Regions from separate parts of the Homo sapiens genome. Here region 1 is linked to region 2. Evidence: fine-mapped expression QTL. Tissue or cell type: whole blood. Region 2 holds a variant in brackets; the other region holds the start of a gene. All regions are shown on one strand. Distances are from middle to middle.

Evidence for each region. PIP is the estimated chance that this variant, and not a neighbour inherited with it, causes the effect.
Region 1: TRAPPC6B starts here. The variant in region 2 is fine-mapped to the expression of TRAPPC6B in whole blood (TOPMed, PIP above 0.99). The same link has a PIP of 0.9 or more in lung.

Annotation. Positions count from the first base shown.
Region 1 is chr14:39,165,326-39,173,505 of GRCh38, forward strand. It overlaps TRAPPC6B (trafficking protein particle complex subunit 6B), which reads right to left and starts at 5,008. Exons shown (of 6, transcript NM_001079537.2): 1 at 4,690-5,008. The coding sequence starts at 4,770. RefSeq lists enhancers at 4,466-5,055, 4,815-4,864, 5,646-6,235.
Region 2 is chr14:39,197,536-39,205,715 of GRCh38, forward strand. It overlaps the pseudogene LOC100313942. Among named protein-coding and RNA genes, the nearest start is that of PNN-AS1, 26 kb to the left of the region's middle. RefSeq lists enhancers at 5,961-6,727, 6,207-7,406, 6,728-7,495. The variant T/G (reference allele first, on the strand shown) is at 4,022.

The DNA of each region.
Region 1 (8,180 bases), 32 kb before region 2:
GAGCCACCGCGCCTGGCATTCACATTCTTTAAATTCTGCTCAAGTATTACATTCTCCCAGATGGCTTCCCTGAAACTTCCTTAGGCCCTATGCTGTCGTAAAATTCTGTACATACATCTATTACTGTACGTATCACTATCTTCAGTTTTTCTGCTATTCTCCACACTTCTCAAACATGCTTAGGATGAGGCCAGGCGCAGTGCTCATGCCTATAATCCCAGCACCGTAGGAGGCTGAGGCAGGAGGGTCACTTGAGACTAGGAGTCTGAGACCAGCCTGAGCAACATAGCAAGACTCTGTTTCTACAAAAAAAAATTTTTTTAATTAGCTGGACATGGTAGCATGCCCATAGCCCTAGCTATTCGAGAGGCTGATGTGGGAGGATCACTTAAGCCCAGGAGGTCAAGGCTGCAGTGAGCCAAAGTCCCAACACTGCATTTCAGCCTGCATGACAGAGCAAGACATTGTCTCTCTCTCTCTCTCTCTGTTTTTTTTTGAGACTGAGTCTTGCTCTGTCACCCAGGTTGGAGTGCAGTGACACAATCTCGGCTCAATGCAACCTCCGCCTCCTGGGTTCAAGTGATTCTTCTGCCTCAGCCTCCCGAGTAGCTGGGACTACATGCGTGCACCACCACACCCAGCTATTTTTTGTATTTTTAGTAGAGACGGAGTTTCACCATGTTGGCCAGGCTGGCCTGGAACTCCTGTCCTTGTGACCTGCCTGCCTTGGCCTCCCAAAGTGCTAGGATTACAGGCCTGAGCCACCGTGTCCAGCCTCTTTTTTTTTTTATTTAAATAGAGACACTGTTTCACTATGTTGCCCAGGTTGGTCTCCAACTCCTGGGCTCAAGTAATTCTCCCACCTCAGCCTTCCAAAGTGCTGGGATTTACAGGTGTGAGCCACCACACTAACCCAGAGACTTGTCTCTTAAAAAAAAAAAAAACAAAAAAACAAGTTCAGCTAGAATAAGTGTCTGTAAATCATGATGCTCTTTTTGGAATAATCTGCTCTCTGTAGAATCACCTAGGAACATATTTATTAGCAGGAACTATTGAAACCACCTTTGCAAAGATTGTAACAGTAAGAAAATCATGACTGTAAAAGAGATCTCACCTAATCAACTCCATCTTGCCTTTAACCTCCAAGCTGCCCTTGGTCATTTCTGGATGCAGCCCAAGCTAACTTTGGGAGAAATTTAGTTTATAGTGTAAGCTTAAAGCAAGAATGATAATAGCCCTTCCCGAAACTAAATCACCTTTGCAAAACTAATGAAAGACTATAAGGTTAGGCTTATGAGAGGGGTCTGAATTCTGCTAAAATGTAGGTAGTTAAATGATAATCAGACATTATTCTGGAAGTCACAGATTTGTAACTTCCCCAATTACTCCTGTAAATAATATCACTATTGTAGAACCTAAAAAAGGCCTTTTGAGATGTCTTTTCAGACTTTTGCATTTCGGATGACTCCAACTGGTCCTCTGGCCCCCACCTCTGTAACTGCATCCCCAACCAACCAGGAGCACCCATTCCCCAGCCCCCAGCCTACCAAACTATCCTTGATAAACCCTAGACTCTGCATGTTTGGGGAGGCTGATTTGAGCAATAATAAAACTCTGCTCTCCCATTTAGCAGCTCTACATAAACTCCTTATTGCAATTCTCCTGTCTTGATAGATCAGCTCTACCTGGGCAGTGGGGAAGAAGAACCCACTGGGCAGTTACAATATGCTTATATGCAGACACTTTCAAATCCTATGATCACATGAGCTTTTGAATTAAGCCCTACTACTTAATTTTGCTACTTGTTCATGCACTTTTGAGTAGGCACCAAATTTTTAAGAAAAATTCAACTTGAGAACATTTTATCCATTAGCCTTTCAAAATCCATTCACCATAAATTGAGAAATGCCCAATTAGTCCATTTTAAGAGAATTCCTCTTTAAGCATAGTTTGAAAAACCTTGATTTGGAGGGTTAGAACACTGTTTCTTTCTTTTATCTCACCTCAAGTCTTATGGAAGTTTATTTTGCTATACTGAAAATTTATAAAACTTTATTTCATTTAAAAAAACTTTCCATAACAAAAACAAAAAAAAAGACACATAATCCTGTCAGCGAGAAATGGATTTTATAGGTCTTTTCAGACATAAACAACATAGTTTTTACAGATCTTTTTATGTCTGAAAAAAATCTCTAAAAATCACCTCTGGATGACAGGATTATGTATCTTTTACATTTTTCATGATGAAAAATTTCAAGCACACTCAAAGTATGGACACTAATGTGAACCCTTATATACCCGTATTTCAGTATGGGTTCTGATTATGAAGACTACCACATAACTGTTATTTATATAATTTTTGCTTATTATGTACTTTCAATTTTCCCCCCCATCATAAATACACTGCAGTAGAAAAAGAAAGTTATTTTTAGCTTAAATGATTCAAAACTATGAACTTCCTTTCTCTTGTATGTTAGTCCATCTCTTAAAATTATCAGGCCTGAGTAGAACAGCTCTGTTCATTTTATTTAGGATTAACCCACGGGAAAAAAAAAAGATATTTTAAAAAGAAGAAAAAATATTATTCTAGACAAGAGTCAGAAAAGGGCCAGGCGCAGTGGCTTACGCTTGTAATCCCAGCACTTTGGGAGGCCAAGGCGGGCAGATCACCTGAGGTCAGAAGTTCAAGAACAGCCTGGTCAACAGGGTGAAACTCCGTCTCTACTAAAAATACAAAAAAATTAGTCAGGCATGGTGGCCGGCACCTGTAATTCCAGATACTCAGGAGGCTGAAGCAGGAGAATCGCTTGAACCCAAGAGGCGGAGGCTGCAGTGAGCTGAGATCACACCACTGCACTCCAGCCTGGGAGACAAGAACAAAACTCCATCTAAAAAAAAAAAAAAAGAGAGAGAGAGAAGAGGAAAGGTAAGAAGGGAGGGGAGAATGAAGAGAACTGAATACGCAAGTGGTTTGGGGGGATCGGGGGTTATGACAAAAAAGTAAAAGGGGTGTGTTAACTGTTCTAGAGGGAAAAGGAAGGCTAGCTTTGCACAAACAGTAAACCTTGAGGTCAATAATAAAGTCAGAAGTTTGTGACTTGAAAAAAATCTCTATTATAGATGGGTCATTTGAATAAGAATAGAATTCGCTTCATTTCCAATAACCTTCCAAATGTATCCTGCCTATCCTTCTTGTGCAAACTGGCAGTACCTTTTTTTGGATGTCATACAGGCACCTCAAAAGTTCAACCTGCCCCGAAATAACTCATTATCTTACCTCCTTATTTTTTTCTTCTCCTTTATTTCCTTTTCTGATTAATAGTACCACCATCCAACCCAGCTGCTCAAGCTGAAAACCTGACGATAATTTTCAACTCCCACTCCCATCCTTAAACAAGGCCTACAGAATTCCACTTTCTAACTTTCAAATCTGTTATCTCCTTTTCTCACTATCCCTGTCTTAATCCAGATCTTCATCTCCTCCTGCAGTGACTCCCGTAATAAAGGATTTTCCCCCTACAAGGATCTTCCCTCTCTAGCCCAAACACTGGATTACTTTTCTAAAATGCAAATGGTCCACATCATTCCCTTCCTTAAAAATATTCCCTCGAAAAGATCCGAATTCTTTAATTACACAAAGCTTTCTAACTTCACCTCTCAATTCTTCTCACTCTCTATTCAGTCTAGTCCAAAGAAATGCTTAAGTGTATTTAAATCCACCACTCTTTCATACCTCTACCACTTTATCTTTGCCTAGGATACATTTCCTATCCCCACTCTCCACTCATTTTTTATCAATAGCATTAAAGAAAGGGCTCCTGACTTGAGCATGACTTTGGAGTATTTCTAAAATCCGTTACAACTCCATGATTCTACCAGCCAATACTCAGTGTTAACTATTCATTAAATCACTATTCCCTAAATACTGTGAGGCAGGAGTATTATTTTATTTAATTTATCTAGCAGTGTCAGCAGTGACAGGCCCACAATGATTGAATAAGGACTCCCACATATTAGAAGTAACCGCTACATACTATCACATTTCGGATTAAATTAGATTAAAAAAAAATCTCTACAAGGATGGGGCCATTGTTTCATTCACTACTATATCCCTGGCACCTAGAAATCGCTCTGACATAAGGGCACTAAATAAATACTTTCTGAAATAATTAATTTAAATTATGTTCCCTAATTATCCTAACGCCTGCAAACTTTCCTTTGCAAACTCAACCTTCATTAGGCTTCAGGTCTCAAGTTGTGTGGAGTTGTACTGAGCATTAGGAATGAGGAAGGAGGGACAGGCTTCTCAGGTTGGCACAGGTCTGTCCAGTGCATGGCTCAAGTGCTGGAAGTGCCAGCAAAACTAAGTAGGCTCTGCAGTTAACCCTCTCGTAAATAATGGCAGGGACAACACTAAAAGTACCAAAATCTGTGGCGTGCAAGACAAACGTACGGGAATAGACAAAAGAGAATCAAATAGAAGAAGATACGAAAGAGAAAACGATGAAAGATGACGGTTCAAAGGAGACAACTGACAGGTTCTAGGGTTTAGGACACCTGGAGGTGGACCATTTTGTGTACACCTCGGGAGGCGTCGGGTGGCGATGGGACAGGGGTTGAAGGAAAGCACTGAGGGGAAACAAGGTGTGTCACCGCAAAAGGACCTCAAGGTTGTGTGGCAGCACTCACCACCTCCCCCTGCTCCGCGGACTTGTACACTCCAGACACCATCTCGTTATGGAGAAGCAAAAACAACGCCTCATCCGCCATTTCCTGCTAATTCTTCCAAGCTTCGAGTTTTGGCTCCCGTTTGAGCTGGTCTGGGGGTTCCAGCTCGCGCCTCAGCGACTTCGCCGGCGCCGCGGCTCCGTCAGGCCGCCATTCTATCCCTGTGGCTAAGAGACCGAGGTATTCACACGACTTCCCAAAGGCTGGTACTGAAATGAGTCTGGTACTGGAGAGAGCCCACACTTCGGGGCTACCAAATCCTAGGGCCGAACTAAAGTCTGACGGGAGCTCTAACCAAAGCCAACCAGCTGAGATGCGATCCGGCCGCTGGGCGGGGGCGAAAAAAACAACTTCCGGTCCCCTCTACCCCGGCATTCGGCCAGCTCTATGATCACTGAGTTCCTCTCTCCCAAGCCCGGAGAGGCCAGCGCCCAGATATGAGGAAGGTTCCCCTCTCACCACGATGTCGGGGGCAGAGCAAGATAAAATAAGACCTAAAGCTCCCGCCTGGCCCGGGCGCGGTGGCTCACGCCTGTAATCCCAGCACTTTGGGTGGCGGAGGCGGGTGGATCACATGAGGTCGGAAGTTCGAACCAGCCTGAGAAACCCCGTCTCTACTATAAGTACAAAATTAGCGGGGCCTGGTGGTGCATGCCTGTAATCCCAGCTACTCGGGAGTCTGAGGCAGGAGAATCGCTTGAACTCGGGAGGCGGAGGTTGCGGTGAGCTGAGATCGCGCCACTGCACTCCAGCCTGGGCAACAAGAGTGAAACTCCGTCTCAAAAAAAAAAAAAAAAAAAGAGCTCCCGCGGCCACCTCCTTGTTAATTAGCAATAGAAGTTAAAAAAATTCTTTTGGCTTCATCAAAAGCATCCACTTCCTGCCATATGTTCTTCAAATATGAAAAGTTGTAGAAAGAGTTTAAAATATACGTTTTCACAGTGCAAATTTTTTAAATATTGAAAAGTTATCCCAATTCCTATTGAATTAAGCCCGGGTATACAAAAAGAATTAGAGCCATTTTGACCACCAGGAATTTTCCTGTTAGTGGGGTGCAAGGGACAAGGGAAGTGGAGCAAACGAAAAACAAGATACACTTGAACCGGAAAATACAGACTAATCAGAGGATTAGGTGAAAAGTGCTATAGAATTCAGAAAAGCGATGTCACTGCAGGATGGAGTTGCTAATAATCTACAGCAGTGTGAGACAACTGTAGGAATTGTCCCACTGCATGTGCAAATAAATACACATGCTACATCATAGTATGTACATCTTAAATTTGGCAAATTCAACCGTAAGCATGTTGCTTAGCCTGTGATTAGTTCTTCCATTGGTAATTCACAAAACAAAATTTTTCCCCAATTGTCCCTGTTGTTTTCCCCCAAATTAACATACCGCAAGGTGGCTCATGCCTGTAAAATCCAGCACTTTGGGAGGCCGAGGCACGGGGGGTGGGGGGGATCACGAGGTCATGAGTTTTGAGAGCAGCCTGGCCAACATGGTGAAAACCCGTCTCCACTAAAAATACAAAAATTAGCCGGGCGTGGTGACAGGTGCCTGTAATCCCAGCTACTCGGGGGGCTGAGGCAGGAGAATCACTTGAACCTGGGAGGCAGAGGTTGCAGCGAGCAGAAATTGTGCCACTGCACTCCAGCCTGGGCGACAGAGCAAGACTTCGTCTCAAAAAACGAAACACACACACAAACTCTTCATGCCCTTTCACAGGAATTTAAGATCATGTTCCAAAATTTTAATTGTGGTAGGTTTTTTTTTTAAGCATGTCCCTTCTAATGTTTGAATCAGTTTATTCCATTCATCACGTAAATCCAGCATAAAAGCTCCACTTAAGCCTTTGAAAACACTAAATTGTGTAATTTTGAAGAGTATTTTGCCATGGTAATCTTAATTTTTCCAGCACTAAATTTTCAGTTATGCGAAATCAGGTCCTTTATGTCTAGATGACATTCTTGCCCTCATCACTACCATCAAGAAAAAGGAGTCCAAGTCCACCACACAAGTCAAAAAGTAAGTAAATGGCCAATTTATCAAAGTTGACTTCTCCAACCACAATAACATGAGGCTTTTAAAGTACGTTTCTGGATAGAAAGGAAACTTATTTAATGAGGACCTACTAACTATTGAACACAGCATCCTACTTATCCTTCTCCATAAAGTTAAATTGCCAAGGCTCCTAGGAATAGATCCTATGGAAGCAAGGACAGTGAGTGTGGTGTGTGTGTGTGTGTGTTTTGAGACAGAGTTTTGCTCTTGTTGCCCAGGCTGGAGTGCAATGGCACTATCTCAGCTCACTGCAACCCCGCCTCCCGGGTTCAAGTGATTCTCCTGCCTCAGCTTCCCGAGTAGGTGGGATTACAGGCATGCACCACCAAGCCCAGCTCATTTTGTATTTTTAGTAGAGACGGGGTTTCTCCATGTTGGTCAGGCTGATCTCGAACTCGTGACCTCAGGTGATCCGCCTGCCTCGGCCTCCCAAAGTGCTGGGATTACAGACTTGAGCCACTGTGCCCAGCTGTGTGTGTTTTGTTTTGTTTGAGACAGAGTCTCACTGTTGCCCAGGCCAGAGTGCAGTGGCATGATCTTGGCTCACTGCATGCAACCTCCACCTCCCGGGCTCAAGCAATTCTGCCTCAGCCTTCCAAGCAGCTGACACTACAGGCACTTGCCACCATGCAGGACTAATTTTGTATTTTTAGTAGAGACAGGGTTTCATCATGTTGGCCAGGCTGGTCTTGAACTCCCAATCTCAAGTGATCCGCCCACCAAGGCCTCCCAAAATCCTGGGATTACCGGGCCGACCATACATGCAAACATTCTTACACTTGCTGAATACGCTCTACTATTATCACACTCTCATGCCTCAGGTACTGCCTAAGGTTGTACACAGACCTGTAATAAGATCAATGAGGCTAAGTATGCTCACAATCAGAATTAGATAATTGTCAATCTTCATCCCCATTATTCATCTCTACATTTTTTTCTCCTATAGTACTTCCCGCTTTCTAACATGCTATACTATTTATTTATTTATTTATTTATTTTTGAGACAGAGTCTCACTGCTGCCCAGGCTAGAGTGCAGTGGTGTGATGACAGCTCACTGCAGTCTCAAACTCCTGGACTCAAACAATCATCCCGCCTCAGCCTCTCCAGTACAATTTTTAAAATTTTTATTTTTAGAGACAGGATCGTTGCTATGTTGCCCAGGCTGGTCTTAACTCCTGGGCTGTAGCGATTCTCCCACCTCAGTCTCCCAAGTATCTGGGATTACAGGCACAATCCACTGGACTTGCTCAGAGATCTTTATTGTACACTGATATACCCAAGTGCCTAGAATAGCACCTGGCACATAGTGGGCCCTCAGTATTTGTTGAACTAATGAATGATCATTGCTCCTTTGGAAGCCTACAAACCCCACAGAAGCAGGAATCACAA
Region 2 (8,180 bases):
GTACCTCCTATCCTCATTGCAATTTTGTGTGAAAAATACATTTGTCGGCTGGGCGTGGTGGCTCACGCCTGTAATCCCAGCACTTTGGGAGGCCAAGGCAGACGGATCACAAGGTCAGGAGTTTGAGACCAGCCTGAGCAACATGGAGAAACCCTGACTCTACTAAAAATACAAAAATTAGCCGGGCATGGTAGCGCGCACCTGTAATCCCAGCTACTTAAGAGGTTGAGGCAGGAGAATCTCTTGAACCCGGGAGGCGGAGGTTGCAGTGAGCTGAGATCGCGCCACTGCACTCCAGCCTGGGCGACAGAGCGAGACTCCGTCTCAAAAAAAAAAAAATACATTTGTCTTGTTGAAGACAAGGTTATTTGTTCCCTTTGAAAGCAAACAGACATTCTATAACTAACAATACTTTAGAGATGGACTTCTAAGTTGTTTACAATTTTTCTTTTTTTGAGATGGAGTTTTGCTCTTGTTGCCCAGGCTGGAGTGCAATGGCGCGATCTTGGCTCACCGCAACCTCCGCCTCCCGGGTTCAAGCAATTCTCCTGCCTCAGCCTCCCCAGTAGCTGGGATCACAGGCATGTGCCACCACACTTAGCAAATTTTGTATTTTTAGTAGAGACGAGGTTTCCCCATGTTGGTCAGTTTGGTCTCGAAATCCCAACCTCAGGTGATCCGCCCACCTCGGCCTCCCAAAGTGCTGGGATTACAGGTGTGAGCCACCGTGCCGGCCTACAATTTTTCAATATTATAAGTAATTCCAGTGCATATATCTCTTCCCATGTGTAATATTATATCCTTAGAGTAAATTCATATATGTAAAATTGATGGGTCAATGAGACATTTCAAGTATATTGGAAATTTATACAAATTTATAAATTTATACTGCTACCGACTATAGAGGAGGTTGCTTTTTTTCCCCATATCCTTACCAACATGGATTTTGTCAGCTTTATTTATTTGAGGTTGAAAAGAGCAAGCTCATAAAGAAATTTTGTACTCTTCTACTTTTCTTTCTTTTTTTTTTTCTGTTTTGAGACAGAATTATGATCTTGTTGCCCAGGCTGGAGTGCAGTGGCACAGTCTCGTTCACTGCAACCTCAGCCTCCTGGGTTCAAGCAATCCTTCTGCCTCAGCCTCCCAAGTAGCTGGGATTACAGGCGCCTGTCAACACACCCAGCTAATTTTGTATTTTTAGTAGAGACAGGGTTTCACCATGTTGGCCAGGCTGGTCTTGAACTCCTGACCTCAGGTGATCCGCCTGCCTCAGTCTCCCAGAGTGCTGGGATTACAGGTGTGAGCCACTGCGCCTGGCCTTCTACATTTCATTAATAAAGAGTCAAATGTGTTTTCTAGCACATTTGTAGTTTTTTTTACATTTAACTGTTAATATATCTGAAATTTATTTAGTTGTTTAAAAAAAGATAAGAATGGCCAAGCACGGTGGCTCACGCCTATAATCCCAGCACCTTGAGAAGAGGGCGGATCACCTGAGGTTGGGAGTTTGAGACAAGCCTGACCAACATTGAGAAACCCCATCTCTACTAAAAATACAAAATTAGCCGGGCGTGGTGGTGCACGCCTGTAATCCCAGCAACTCTAGAGGCTGAGGCAGGAGAATCGCTTGAACCCAGGAGGCAGAGGTTGCAGTGAGCTGAGATCACACCATTGCACTCTAGCCTGGATGACGAGAGTGAAACTCCATCTCAAAAAAAAAAAAAAAAAAAAAAGGTCAGAATTAACTTTTTTTTTCAAGTTGCTGTTAGTTCTTCCAGTATAATTTATTGAATAATCTTTGTCTCCCTCCCTGAATTAAAATGCAACCATATAGCAAATTATCATATTTTCTTGGGTCTATTTAATTGAATGCTATATTAAATTTTTTTTTTTTTTTTTTTTTGAGACAGAGTCTTGCTTTGTCTCGCAGGCTGGAGTGCAATGGGGCGACGATCTCGGCTCACTGCAAGCTCTGCCTCCTGGGTTCATGCCATTCTCCTGCCTCAGCCTCCCGAGTAGCTGGGACTACAGGCACACGCCACCATGCCCGGCTCATTTTTTGTATTTTTAGCAGAGATGGGGTTTCACCGTGTTAGCCAGGATGGTCTCGATCTCCTGACCTCGTGATCCACCCGCCTCAGCCTCCCAAAATGCTGGGATTACAGACGTGAGCCACCACGTCCAGCCTAAAATTGTTTTATAGTAGGTTTTAATATCTGGTATGCTAAGTCCCCCCCAATATGCTTCTTTTCCAATTTTTCCAAAATATTTATTTTTATTGTTATTATTTTTTTGAGACAGAGTCTCTCTTTGTTGCCCAGGCTGGAGTGCAGTGGTGCGATCTCAGCTCACTGCAACCTCTGCCTCCTGGGTTCAAGCGATTCTCCTGCCTCAGCCTCCTGAGTAGCTGGGACTACAGGCATGCGCCACCATGCCTGGCTAATTTTTGTATTTTTAGTAGAGATGGAGTTTCACCATGTTGGTCAGGCTGGTCTCAAACTCCTGATCCTGTGATCCACCTGCCTAGGCCTCCCAAAGTGCTAGGATTACAGGCATGAGCCACCATGCCTGGCTATATATTTATTTTTAATGAAAACTTTAGAATCATTTTTCAAGTTCCCCAAAAAGTTAACATTTTCATTGCAATTATATGGCCTTTATAAATTTAGAAGTAATCAACATCTTTAGAATATTGACTCTAAACAGAAACAAGTATAACTCTGCATTTATTCTATCATCTATATTCTGCAGTAACATTTTATAGTTTTCTTCATCAGGTCTTGTACATTTTTATTAAGTTTAGCCGTAGAGTGTCTTTTGCTAAAACAAATTATTTGCTATTGTGAACAGGATTTTTTTCTTTTTATTGCATTTCCACCGATTTGTTGTTTATGTATAGGAAATTTAAAAATATTTTTCCAGTTTGCAGGAAGCTCCTTTGTCTACCTCTTGTCTACAGTGGAAACTCCTGTGACTATTTTCTAAGCCATACTTGACTGGATCACAGTTAAAGAAAAAGTGAGGCACTTCTTCAGGAAGACAAGAACATTTCTTTTGGTGGTTGGACTTATAAAATGTTGGAATAATAAGTCTGTCTTTGTCCACTCTGGCTGCTATAACAAAATACCATAAACTGGGTAGCTTATAAACAACAGAAACTTCTCACAGTTCTGGAACCTGGGAAGTCCAAGAACAAGATAAGATTAGGTGTCTGGTAAGGGCCCGCTTCCTCATAGATGGCATCTTCTTGCTGTGACCTCACATAATATAAGGGATGAGGAGTCTCTCTTGGCCCTCTTTTATAAGGTCACGAATCCACTCAAGGACCTCACTTTCTAGTACCATCACCCCTGGGGGCTAGGATTTCAACATATGAATTTGATGGGGGGGGGGTGGGACACAGATATTCAGATCATAGCAAAGTCTTAATTCATTAATATGTAATTTTTCACCTGGTGCAGTGGCTCACACCTGTAATTCCAACACTTCCAGAGACTGAGGCAGGTGGATCACTTAAGCCCAGGAGTTCAAGATCAGCCTGGGTAAAATGGCAAAACCCCATGTCTACAAAAAATACAAAAATTAGCCAGGCATGGTGGCGTACCTGTAGTCCTTCCTAAGGCAAGAAGATCACCTGAGTCCAGGAGGTGGAGGTTGCATTGAGTCATGATTGTGCCACTGCACTCCAGTCTGGAAGACAGGGCAAGGCTGTCTCAAAAAAAAAAAAAAAAGTGTGTAGCACCCCATTAATTAAAAAATGAATAAATATATAAAAAGATGTAACTTCCCTTCCTGAAACTGTTACCAAAAATGTTCTCTTGGGCCAGGCGTGGTGGCTCACACCTGTAATCCCAGCACTTTGGGAGGCCGAGGCGGGCGGATCATGAGGTCAGGAGATTGAGACCATCCTGGCTAACACGGTGAAACCCCGTCTCTACTAAAAAATACAAAAAATTAGCCGGGCGTGGCGGCGGGCGCCTGTAGTCCCAGCTACTCGGGAGGCTGAGGCAGGAGAATGGTG[T/G]GAACCCGGGAGGCGGAGCTTGCAGTGAGCTGAGATTGTGCCACTGCACTCCAGCCTGGGCGACAGAGCAAAGACTCAAAAAAAAAAAAAAAAAAAAAAAAGTTCTGTTGACTTTCCCTGTGATATCAGGCGATCTTCACAATTCAGTCCAATTCCATAACCTTAAAAAACATGTTTATTGTTTGATTTTTTAAAATTTTATTTTATGAGATAGGATCTTGCTCAATCTCCCAGGCTGGAGTGCAGTGGCAGGATCACAGATCACTACAGCCTCAACATCCTGGCTCAGCCTTCCAAGTACCTGGGACTACAGCTGCATGTCACCGCGCCCAGCTAATTTTATTTTATTTTTTGTAGAGACAGGGATCTCACCATGTTGCTCAGGCTGGTCTCGAACTCCTGAGCTCAAGTGATCCTCCTGCCTTGGCCTTCCAAAGTGCTGGGACTACAGACATGAACCACCACACCTGGCCAAAAAACATGTTTATTGTTAAAAGTTTTAAACACACGAAGGTAGAAAGAATGTTATAATGAACCTCTATGTACCTATCACTCAGCTTTAACAATTATCAACTTATTGCTATTTTTGTTTCAACACTCCACATATTCCTTACCACACACACACCCTTAGTCTCTGCCACTTGAATCATTTCCAAAACTTTTTGATGGCCTAGGTTTCCTTGCCCACTGGGGCGACTAGCCTCTTTCCACAATGTCTATTTGATCATGAGGACAGTCACATATTACTATGCCATGCAGTAGGAAGACATTGGTCCCACCACTCCTTTCTTTTTTGTTCATTTCTTTCTCTACTGAGTGGCAGCAAGCCTGAGGCGTTACATATTGTGCTACTTTTTGGTTTAGCAATCTATAGATGACACTATGAACAGATCCCTTGGTAGATGGGTTAACTTGAACACCTCCTAGTTAAATAGCAAGGGGGAGGGGACAAACTGAATGCCAAACATCCCCATTCCCATCACCGCACATCAGAAGAGAAGGGAGAAGAGATGATTGACACTACTATGAGCTCTGTGTGCTACCTCCCACCTCCAATATTTAGATTTACAGAAGGCTTGCAAAGAGATTATTGGACTCAAAGATGTCGGTTTTCTGAAAATAGAATATAAAAGTACTCAGTGCCATTTTTGTTCTCAGCTGTTAAGTTCTGTTAGGAAATACATGGAAGACAAGAAAGATACTGCTTGACACATCTATCACCATGTTACACATATAAACTCAAGAAATGTAGGAAATGGCTCCATTGCTGCACTGCTGTTCTGCCTTGCGAGAGAACTCTGGCACAGGCTGCGGGTCCAGAGGCCTGGCTCTGCTTGAAGTAGCTCCCCCTTGCCCTATTTCACTCTGCAGGGCCACTAAGGCCCTGGGACACTGCGAGTGCTAAAGCTACAGACTGTTTGGTTGCAATGTGGTGTCCCTCAGGCGTATAGATTCTTTTTTTTTTTTGGAGGTGAAGTTTTGCTTTTGTTGCTCAGGCTGGAACACAATGGCACGATCTCAGCTCACTGCAACCTCTGCCTCCTGGGTTCAAGTGATTCTCCTGTCTCAGACTCCCAAGTAGCTGGGATTACAGGTGTCTGCCACCACGCCCAGCTAATTTTTGTATATTTAGTAGAGACGGGGTTTCACTATGTTGACCAGGCTGGTCTTGAACTCCTGACCCCAGGTGATCCACCCGCCTCGGTCTCCCAAAGTGCTAGGATTGCTGGCGTAAGCCACTGCGCCTGGCCTAGACTCTCTTTTTAAAGATTAACTGGAGATCATCATGGCGGATGGGAGGCAGAACTAGACTGCAGCTCTGACTCTGATGGACAGAGCAGTGTGTGGAGGCTCACGTCATGAATTTTAGCTTCAGATCAACTGCAATAACAGACCACCAATCCTGAGAGGACCCACAGACCCTCTGAGGGAAGCAGACTGCTCCTGCAGGACCTTGGAGACACCCCAAATATTGTGAGAGCCCCAATTGCGGAAGTGGGAAAGCGAGATCCTCCTCTCCCGAACACACACCCCCTCTGGAGAAACTGAAGGACTGTTTGCAGGAGAAGTTTTTGATCTTACCTGGAGCTGATTCAATTTAGACAGCCCAACAAAATACAGGTGTAGAGGAAGCAGTAGGAAAGGCCCTGGGAACTTGCTGGGTCCCCAGCAGGCCATTCCTGCCTGGCACCACAGGGATCTATCAGGAGAGTGGGCAGAAGAGTGAGGGAAAACACCACAGGGAGAAGGAAATCTCCAGCTGAACTTTGTGACAATTTGAACCTGGTGAGAAGCCTCCTGGCCAGAACTCAGGGGAGGATGCATATCAGTGTGCAGACTCCACAGACTGGGGTAGAACTAAAGCCCTTTTATGTTGCAGCTGGGAGGAGGGTAGCCTGGGGCAAGTTCTCAAGCCCAGCCCACCCACTGTCCAGAAACAGACTTGACGCTGTCAGGGGGTGCATGGTGGGTGTGGGACCAGCTCTTTAGTTTGTGTGGGAGGTGGATGAGGCCTGTGACTGCCAGCTTTCCCCCACTTCCCTGACAACCTGCATGACTCAGCAGAGGCATCTATAATCCTCCTAGGTACACAACTCCATTGACCTGGGAACCTTACCCCATCCCCCACAGCAGCCACAGCAAGACCCGCCCAAGGATAGTCTGAGCTCAGACATGCCTAGCCCTGCCCCCACCTGATGGGCCTTCCTTATCCACTCTGGTAGCTGAAGACAAAGGGCATATAATCTTGGGACTTCAAGGGCCCCACCCACCACTGGTTCCTCTCCATACTACCATAGTTGATGCTCTCTGGAAAGCATCACCTCCCAGCAGGAGGCCAACTAGCACAAAAATAGAGCATTTAAACCACCAAAGCTAAGAACCCTCACAGAGCCCATTGCGCTCCCCTGCCACCTCCACCAGAACAGGTGCTGGTATCCATGTCTGAGAGATCCATAGACAGTTCACATCACAGGGCTCTGTGCAGACAACTCCCAGTACCAGCCCAGAGCTGGGTAGACGTGCTGGGTGGCTCGATCCAGAAGAAAGACAACAATCACTGCAGTCTGGCTCACAGGAAGCCACATCCATAGGAAAAGGGAAGACTCAAGGGACAAAAGAATCTGAACAACAGCCTTCAGCCTTAGACCCTCCCTCTGATAGAGCCTATCCAAATGAGAAGGAACCAGAAAACCAACTCTGGTAATATGACAAAAAAAGGCTCTGTAACACCCCCCAAATAATCACAGTAGCTCACCAGCAGTAGAACCAAACCAAGAAGAGATCCCCGATTTACCTGAAAAAGAATACAGGAGGTTAGTTATTAAGCTAATCAGGGAGGCACCAGAGAATGGTGAAGCCCAGCACAAAGAAATCCAAAAAACAATACAAGAAGTGAAGAGAGAAATATTCAGGAAAATAGATAGCATAAAGAAAAAACAATCAAAACTTCAGGAAACACTGGACACACTTATAGAAATGCAAAATGCTCTGGAAAGTCTCAGCAGTAGAATTGAACAAGTAGAAGAAAGAAATTCAGAGCTCGAAGACAAGGTCTAACAAAGACAAAGAAAAAAGAATAAGAAAATATGAGTCTGGGCAGGGTGGCTCACGCCTGTAATGCCAGCACTTTGGGAGGCTGAGGCGGGCGGATCACGAGGTCAGGAGATTGAGACCAGCCTTGCCAACAGGGTGAAACCCCATCTCTACTAAAGACACAAAAATTAGCTGAGTGTGGTGGTGCCTGCCTGTAATCCCAGCTACTCAGGAGGCTGAGGCAGGAGAATCGTTTGAACAAGGGTGTCGGAGGTTGCAGTGAGCCGAGATGGTGCCATTGCACTCCAGCCTGGCGACAGAGCGAGACTCCATCTAAAAAAAAAAGAAAGAAAGAAAATATGAACAAAGCCTCCAAGAAGCCTGGGATTGTGTTAAATTACCAAACCTAAGAATAATTGGTGTTTTGAGACTAGCCTGGCCAACATGGTGAAACCCTGTCTCTACTAAAAGTACAAAAAATTAGCCGGGCATGGTGGCATGTGCCTGTAGTCCCCGCTACTCAGGAGGCTAAGGTAGGAGGATCGCTTGAACCCAGGAGGCAGAGGTTGCAGTGAGCTGAGATTGTGCCACTGCACACCAGCCTGGGCAACAGAGTGAGACTCTG